Linked DNA regions of Homo sapiens. The protein of the gene in region 2 interacts with the protein of the main gene of each other region in a pairwise test. Each region holds a gene or a part of one and is shown on either strand. Other genes may lie near its edges.

Region 1 (3,500 bases), on a different chromosome or scaffold from region 2:
ACTTTCTCCATTTTTGAAAAGCACTTTAGCTATATATATTTCAATTATGAAAGAATTCATGTTCTCCAAGCTCTTAGTCTTAGTTCAAAATTGTGTCTAATGAAATGATTGGAGATACAGACTGTAAATAAGAATGTCTATCACTTCAATAAAAACAAAAAATAAAAAAATCAGAAGTAACCTATATGTCCAAATATAGGGAAATGATTAAATTACATTCCATATGGTGAAACAAACACCCATGACTGAATATCATAAAAACATGAATATTTTTTCAAAGAATGTTTAATGATATGTGAACATTTTCACAATTTAATGTTAAATAAAAAGCCCAGAACTGAGTATTATAATGCCAATGTTAAAGGCCACATATGTATTTATAATGCATGTATAAAACTAAGTAAGGACTGTTACCAAAATGCCATTTGCCAGGGTGAATGCTGAATGGTGAAATTATTAATTTTTATCATCATAATTTCTGCTTCTGGGCAGCAGGGTTGACAAAAAATTACCTGTAGAGCTTCCTCCCTCCTTTCCCACCCTATCACTCTATGAATACATAGCAAAATTTAGGCACACTCTTGATAAGTAGTATATTGTTTTTCTCTGACTAATAATAAGTCTTAGTTGCTTAACATTTTCATTGTCATATGCAATTCTTAATTATTAAGTCACAGAAATGCAAGTTAATAATTCTTCCTGGTCAAAACTGTAATCACAATCAAGCGTGCAACTGTTCCTCATGTATTCATGCACATCACGCACTGAGTATGAACGAAACACCACTACACCTGAACCCACATACCTTTTCAGTCTTCAAATCTTTAGTATTAAACTTAGTGTAATCTTCTTTTGCTTCTACAGGCTCATCTGATAACTTTATTTTCTGCAACATTAGAGCAGTGAAGTGGTGTCAAATGTCACTTTGACACAACATCAATCCATTAAAAAAAAACCCAACATGTATAATTTAGACCTCTACAGAGGCGAATGGGACAGCAGACCCAGCAAAGGGCTTACTTTTTACAGGCTCCTTTACATTTTGCCAATCATCTAGGGAATTGAGCCACACATCACTCCTAAGAAGCAGCCTTGGTGATGGTGGATATGATTGGGTAAGTACATGGCTGAGCCCCTTAGCTGGTCCAGCAAACACAGGCTTTGTAGGTGCCAGGTGTGGTGGGCATGAGGGGATTGCTAATTACCAGATGAATGCAAGGCACAGAAGTCAAAATGAGAATAGTCTCTTGAAGGGGGCCAGGTGTCCAGCCAGAATCCCTATTTCATTTACCTCCTGGGCCAGTTTAATGTCCACTTATGAATGAAGGGACAATATTTATCTTACTTTATCCATGCAAGAACAACCTTGCACAAGCAAGCAGCCAGTAAGAGAGGGAAGCACAGAGAGGCTAAATGAATAGCTTAAGGTCACCAAGTAGAGGACTTTGGCCAAGATTTCAATTCTGATACAGTGTTCTTTCCATTAGGCCCAATGCAACTAAGTCAGACCTTTACTTAATATTTTCTCCTTTCACATGAACATTTTACACCAGTGAATGTGAGAATCTTGTCAAGGCCTTAATGATCACAATATAGAAGAAATCATGCCACACTTATTATGTAAAAGGTACAAAAGCAGGGAAGACAAGTCTTGCTGTTGAACATGGAGAATTGACTGCATGGTGATCACAACCCAGATTTTTATAATTTTCAGGCTGTTTATGGAGACACCAGGTTGACCAGACCCAACATGGATCTAACCTAGGAAACAGACTTCTTCCCAGCTTCATTCTTCATGCCCCTGCTTTGCTAAACAAAGAACGGGTAGAGTTGGTGCTAAAAGATTCCACAGCCCATGGTGTTTTATCCCATAACCCAAGAGGATAAAACACCATGTCTTAAAATTGTTTGCTGTAAAAAAACAGAGGCTCATCCTGGGAATATACCACACACTATAGGAAAACCTCTTGGCCACACAGCAACCTCTAGCAAATGAATCATTAAAAGAAAAAGACTAATCCATCACAAATGAACCACCTATCAGCACCAAGTGAATGTATATTTGCAACTTTGTTAAGAATATATGTTTCAGCTTGGTGCAGTGACTCATGCCTGTAATCCCAGCACTTTGGGAGGCCGAGGTGGGCGGTCACTTGAGGCCAGGAGTTGGAGATCAGCCTGGCCAACATGGCAAAACCCCATCTCTAATAAAAATATAAAAATTAGCTGCGCATGGTGGCATGTGCCTGTAGTCCCAGCTACTCCGGAGACTGAGGCACAAGAATTGCTTGAACCTGAGAAGCAGAGACTGCAGTAAGCTGAGATTGTGCCACTGCACTCCAGCCTAGATGACACGGCAAGACTCTGTCTCAAAAAAAAAAATACATGTTTCTATTTAAATTAAGACAGCAAAGGGTGTTTAGGTGATGCACATTTTTTACTAGAAAGGTATCTTCAGCTAGGAGGGTGAAACTCACAGCTAATAATGCTGAAGGCCAAAATATTTTCAAAACACAAAAAGCTTGAAGTTATGAGGATGCTTGTGTTCCTTCTCTATGGCAAAATGTTCCTAACACAGATGTCATTATAAACACTTAGACATTATTCCCTTTTTTTCTTTAGAGACAGGGTTTCACTGTGTTGCCCAGGCTGGAGTGCGGTGGCTATTCATAGTTGCGATCATCATATACTACAGCCTTGAACTCCTGGGCTCAAGCGACCTTCTGCCTTAGCCTCCTGAGTAGCTAAGACTACAAGTGTGTGCCACTGAACTGATGAGGTTCACTTTTCATTGATAATTCAAATAAAAAGTGTTCATTACAAGAACTTAAGATGAAAGGTACTTTTGTATGGACATAAAATGTTTAATTGGAGAAATGACTTGTTCAGGTGTTTTAATAGCTCACAACAAAACAAGATACCAGTTACAAGTGTTTAAAAAAAGAAAATGATTGTGGTAGCCTCTACATATAACTAGTTTGTATGTTATTCCCAGTGCACTGTTGAATATATTGGAAAAAAAGATGATTGAAGCATTTACTAAAATTTTTGTTATTTAAAAGACCAAATCCCTATGGATTTGGGAGATTGTTTCAGCAGAGAAGTGGCTCAGAAAGACAGTAACAAAGGCTATGACTAAATGGATACAGTTCTGGAAAGAGAACAAACTGCAGAGTACCACAGGGATAATGTTAGGCCTTCTTACAAATGATTTGCAAGAAGGAACTCGGGAACATCTCCAAACCCACTGGTTGCATTCAACTCTGCTTGCTGACAGTGACAAATTGAAAAGACTGGAGCAAGTGAGGGTTGGAAGCTGAGTTTCAACAAAGGCAGACATATGATAGTAAAGGAAAATAATATAAAACATATTAAAGATGACAGGCTCCACGCTATCGATTACAACATAGATACAAAGATACCTAATGACTACTGGAATATATTTCCTGGAAACAGTCAACTATATTACTGTAAAAATCAATCAAATCCTGGATACAGAC
Region 2 (3,265 bases):
TTGCTTTCACACTCAGTTGCCCTGGAAAGGCTGAGCAGTTTTCAATCTGCTGAGCTGATTTATAGCAAGTACAGCTGTAAATTCAATTGTACTAGGTGTTCAGCCTATGCCCTCCCAGTGATGTATCTGAACTTTTCAAAAGGACTAGTTGTCATTAACATCTCTCTATTTTCTTTTGCTGATCTGGGATGATGGGATGCAATGACAATCTGCTTAAAATAAACCTTAAAACCTTAAAACATAATCACCACATCATCCACAAACCCCATTCAACCACAGCATGAGCACAATCACTCTGTAACACAAGGTGAAGATATTCTCTGTTGCTTCTAGGACATATAAGTCCCTCCTGAAGTTTGACAGAGAGAAATAAATTGTGGTCAGGACCTGGATAGGCTCACTAGTAGCCGTCGATGTCGGTGGCGTCTTCTCTTACCTGTTTAAAAGAGGCTCAGTGGCCTTGAGATTTGAACACAATACAGCTGATGGAATCTTGCCACTTTCCTTTTGAATAGACTTTAATTGAGAGCAAAGTGAAAAATGCAGGTTACAATTTTAAGTGTTATCATCAATATCTTGTAAGATCAACACCCAGTGATGCATCTAGTACTTATACAGTCCTAATTTTAGTTGTCAAAGAGCAAATCATTATCAGACATATATTTACACAGTAATTTCAAGCAACGGTAAATAATAAATTCCCTCCCTTAAAAAACAAAACACAACACAACACACACACACACACACACACACACACACACACGACCATCTTTAAACAATGGATTTCCTCACCCAGTAAGTCTCATTTTTTTCACATATACTTGTAGACCCAAAGGTCCTTAAGTTACTTAAAAACAGTCTTATCAGTGGAGATCCTGGACCATCCCCTATTTTCTTTTAAAGTCACTTTCATTTTTACAACTTGAAGCCATATACCAGCATGGTTTTTATACACTAAGGACACTCCCAGTGATGAAAATGAATTCCCCTCCATTTGTGCAAGGAGGTATGTACATCTATAAAGACACATATGATTACCACTCAAAAGAGTCAAAAACATACACAAAAAAATCTCAGATCTTCATAGTTTCTTAAGAGCAGTGTGCCAGTGTTCACATTGAATTAACTGAATGGTAAAATTCTTTTAGATTTCTATACAGAGGTACTGGTTAGTTCTGATTTTTTCTTCAGCTGCTTGAAATGCATGAGCTTTAAAAGTTGCCTGGCAGAACTACATCCTGCTTTCCAGGTTAGCAGCCTGGCTGACCTCGGGAATGTTAGACAAGATTCACCCCCGATGCCTTGCTCTCTGATTTATTTCTTGCTGTTGCTGTTAGTAAATGGAAACCATGACAAAGTTTACATTAGCAGACACATACACATGCCCTGGCCTATAAATATTCCATGATAGAAAATGGTACAATAATTCCATCCCCAGCGAAAACGAGCATAAAAAAAGAAGGGAAGGGTCAGGGGGACATGATCAGCTATGGCTCTTCTTACAGTAGAAAATCCACACCAAATGGCAATGGGCTTTTAACTAACCAGACATTGTTAGCTGCTTCTCCAGGGCCTGTGAGTCAACTAAAAGTAGGCAGGGCAGAGACCAACTCTTCCAGGCACACCTGGTAGTTTCCAGAAGCACCGGTATCTTGTCTTGGAAGTTGGATGAAGAAGATCAACTGAAGTTTCCTTTTTAGTGAGGAGGAGTGGAGAGTCAGACTTGAAAGCAGTTCACACACTGTGCTGCCTGGGACACTGAACGGTCCCCGAGGGAGACCCCTCAAAGCGCCAGCTGGAGTTTGGTCATGTTTCTCTGATGCATGTTGTGATGGCGGACTAATTCATCTGACCGGGCAAACTTTTTCTGACAACTTGGCCACCGACAGCTGAAGGGCTTTTCACCTGTTGACACAATTGCCAGTCAGAGACACTTGCAACAAAGAGACAGGCACAAGTTCAACTATCAAGGCCCGAGTGAAGTCATCACAAGGCACCCACTCTGAATTTCCCATCATTCTGTCCCTGAGCTAACCAACTGAGCTCATTTCCCAGGCAGCCTTGAAACAGCAGCACCTCTTGGGGCTTTAAGGATCGAAATATTGTAAAAAGTTATATTCTTAGGTCAGAAAACTTGGAAAGTGGGAGATAAAGAATGAGTCAAGTTGGGGGAAATGTCTGAGCAATTCATAATTAAGGGGAAAAACGTTTGTTTCAGTCTCTGCTGATAGAATGTTTTGTGAACTGTGTAAATTTCTCCCCCTTGTTGAGTAAGTTGGGAACTGAGATGAACTGGGCTGCAGAAGCCTCTGGGTCATCTACCCTGGGTATTACTGAGTGATCACTGTCCAGGGATCTCAGCTGTGACTGAAGCTTTTAACACTTCTATCTGTGTAGATACCCTGGATGGGCTGGATACTTTAAAATAAATCACTGATACCAGTTTACATGTTATGTGTTGTTTTTTTTTTTCTCTTAAAGTGTTACTGAGAGCATAATCCTGTTATATGGAAGATTCTAGTTGGGGCGTGGTTCTTAGATTTTTAATAAGCTTGCCAAAAGATTGAGGCTTCTCCACCCAAAGAGCCCTCAGACATTCTTTCCAAGCCTCATTCTCATTAGGGAGAATAACTACCATTTATTTGATGCTTAACATATGCCAAGCCTTGTGCTGGGCTTCACACACGCACACACACAACCTCATGTACTCCTTACAACTGCCCGTAGGGGAAGCGTTATTATCCCCACTCTACAGATGAGGTAGGACATCTATTGAGGGCAGATCCAGGCAGAACTCAAATCTCCAGGTCTGTCGAATTCCAGAGCCCGTGCTCTTCCCTGTATCACACCTCCCAGGCCTAGCCATGATGGAAAAGCAGCTGCAGCTCCATCTTAAGGAAGAATGCACAGAAGCTAAACCCTGTGCCACCTGACGGATCTTCTCAGATACTGCTGGTCCCACTTGGCCTTCTCTGAGAACTACTGGTTTGGACAAGCACTGAGAAATGTCCCAGGAGGGCTGGTGTCCCAGGGTCAGACTGGAGGCCAATCAAATGTGGTATTAAACAGTCTGCTGGCAAAACAGGTCATGTCACACTTACTTGGGGAGTGTGACAGCCGTGTCAAAGGGACTATAACACTTTGCCACCGAATTATGAGCTCAGGACTAAGTTAAAGAAGCATCAAAGGCACCTGAGGAAGGGAAGCAAGATCCCATCCTGCCAACCATGGGCCACAGGTGCCTTGGCTCTGTTTTTAAATGCAG

Evidence for each region. The genes of interacting proteins can lie anywhere in the genome.
Region 1: the proteins of WT1 (region 2) and RNASEH2B interact in a two-hybrid assay, tested with the Homo sapiens proteins (one large-scale study listed by BioGRID and IntAct).

Annotation. Positions count from the first base shown.
Region 1 is NC_000013.11:50,951,291-50,954,790, reverse strand, and holds part of RNASEH2B (ribonuclease H2 subunit B), read right to left. Parts: exon of another isoform or gene 887-3,500; coding exon 806-886; intron 1-805. UniProt on the Homo sapiens protein: Non catalytic subunit of RNase H2, an endonuclease that specifically degrades the RNA of RNA:DNA hybrids. Participates in DNA replication, possibly by mediating the removal of lagging-strand Okazaki fragment RNA primers during DNA replication.
Region 2 is NC_000011.10:32,387,275-32,390,539, forward strand, and holds the end of WT1 (Wilms tumor protein), read right to left. Parts: intron 1,906-3,265; coding exon 1,784-1,905; 3' UTR 501-1,783; downstream 1-500. UniProt on the Homo sapiens protein: Transcription factor that plays an important role in cellular development and cell survival. Recognizes and binds to the DNA sequence 5'-GCG(T/G)GGGCG-3'. Regulates the expression of numerous target genes, including EPO.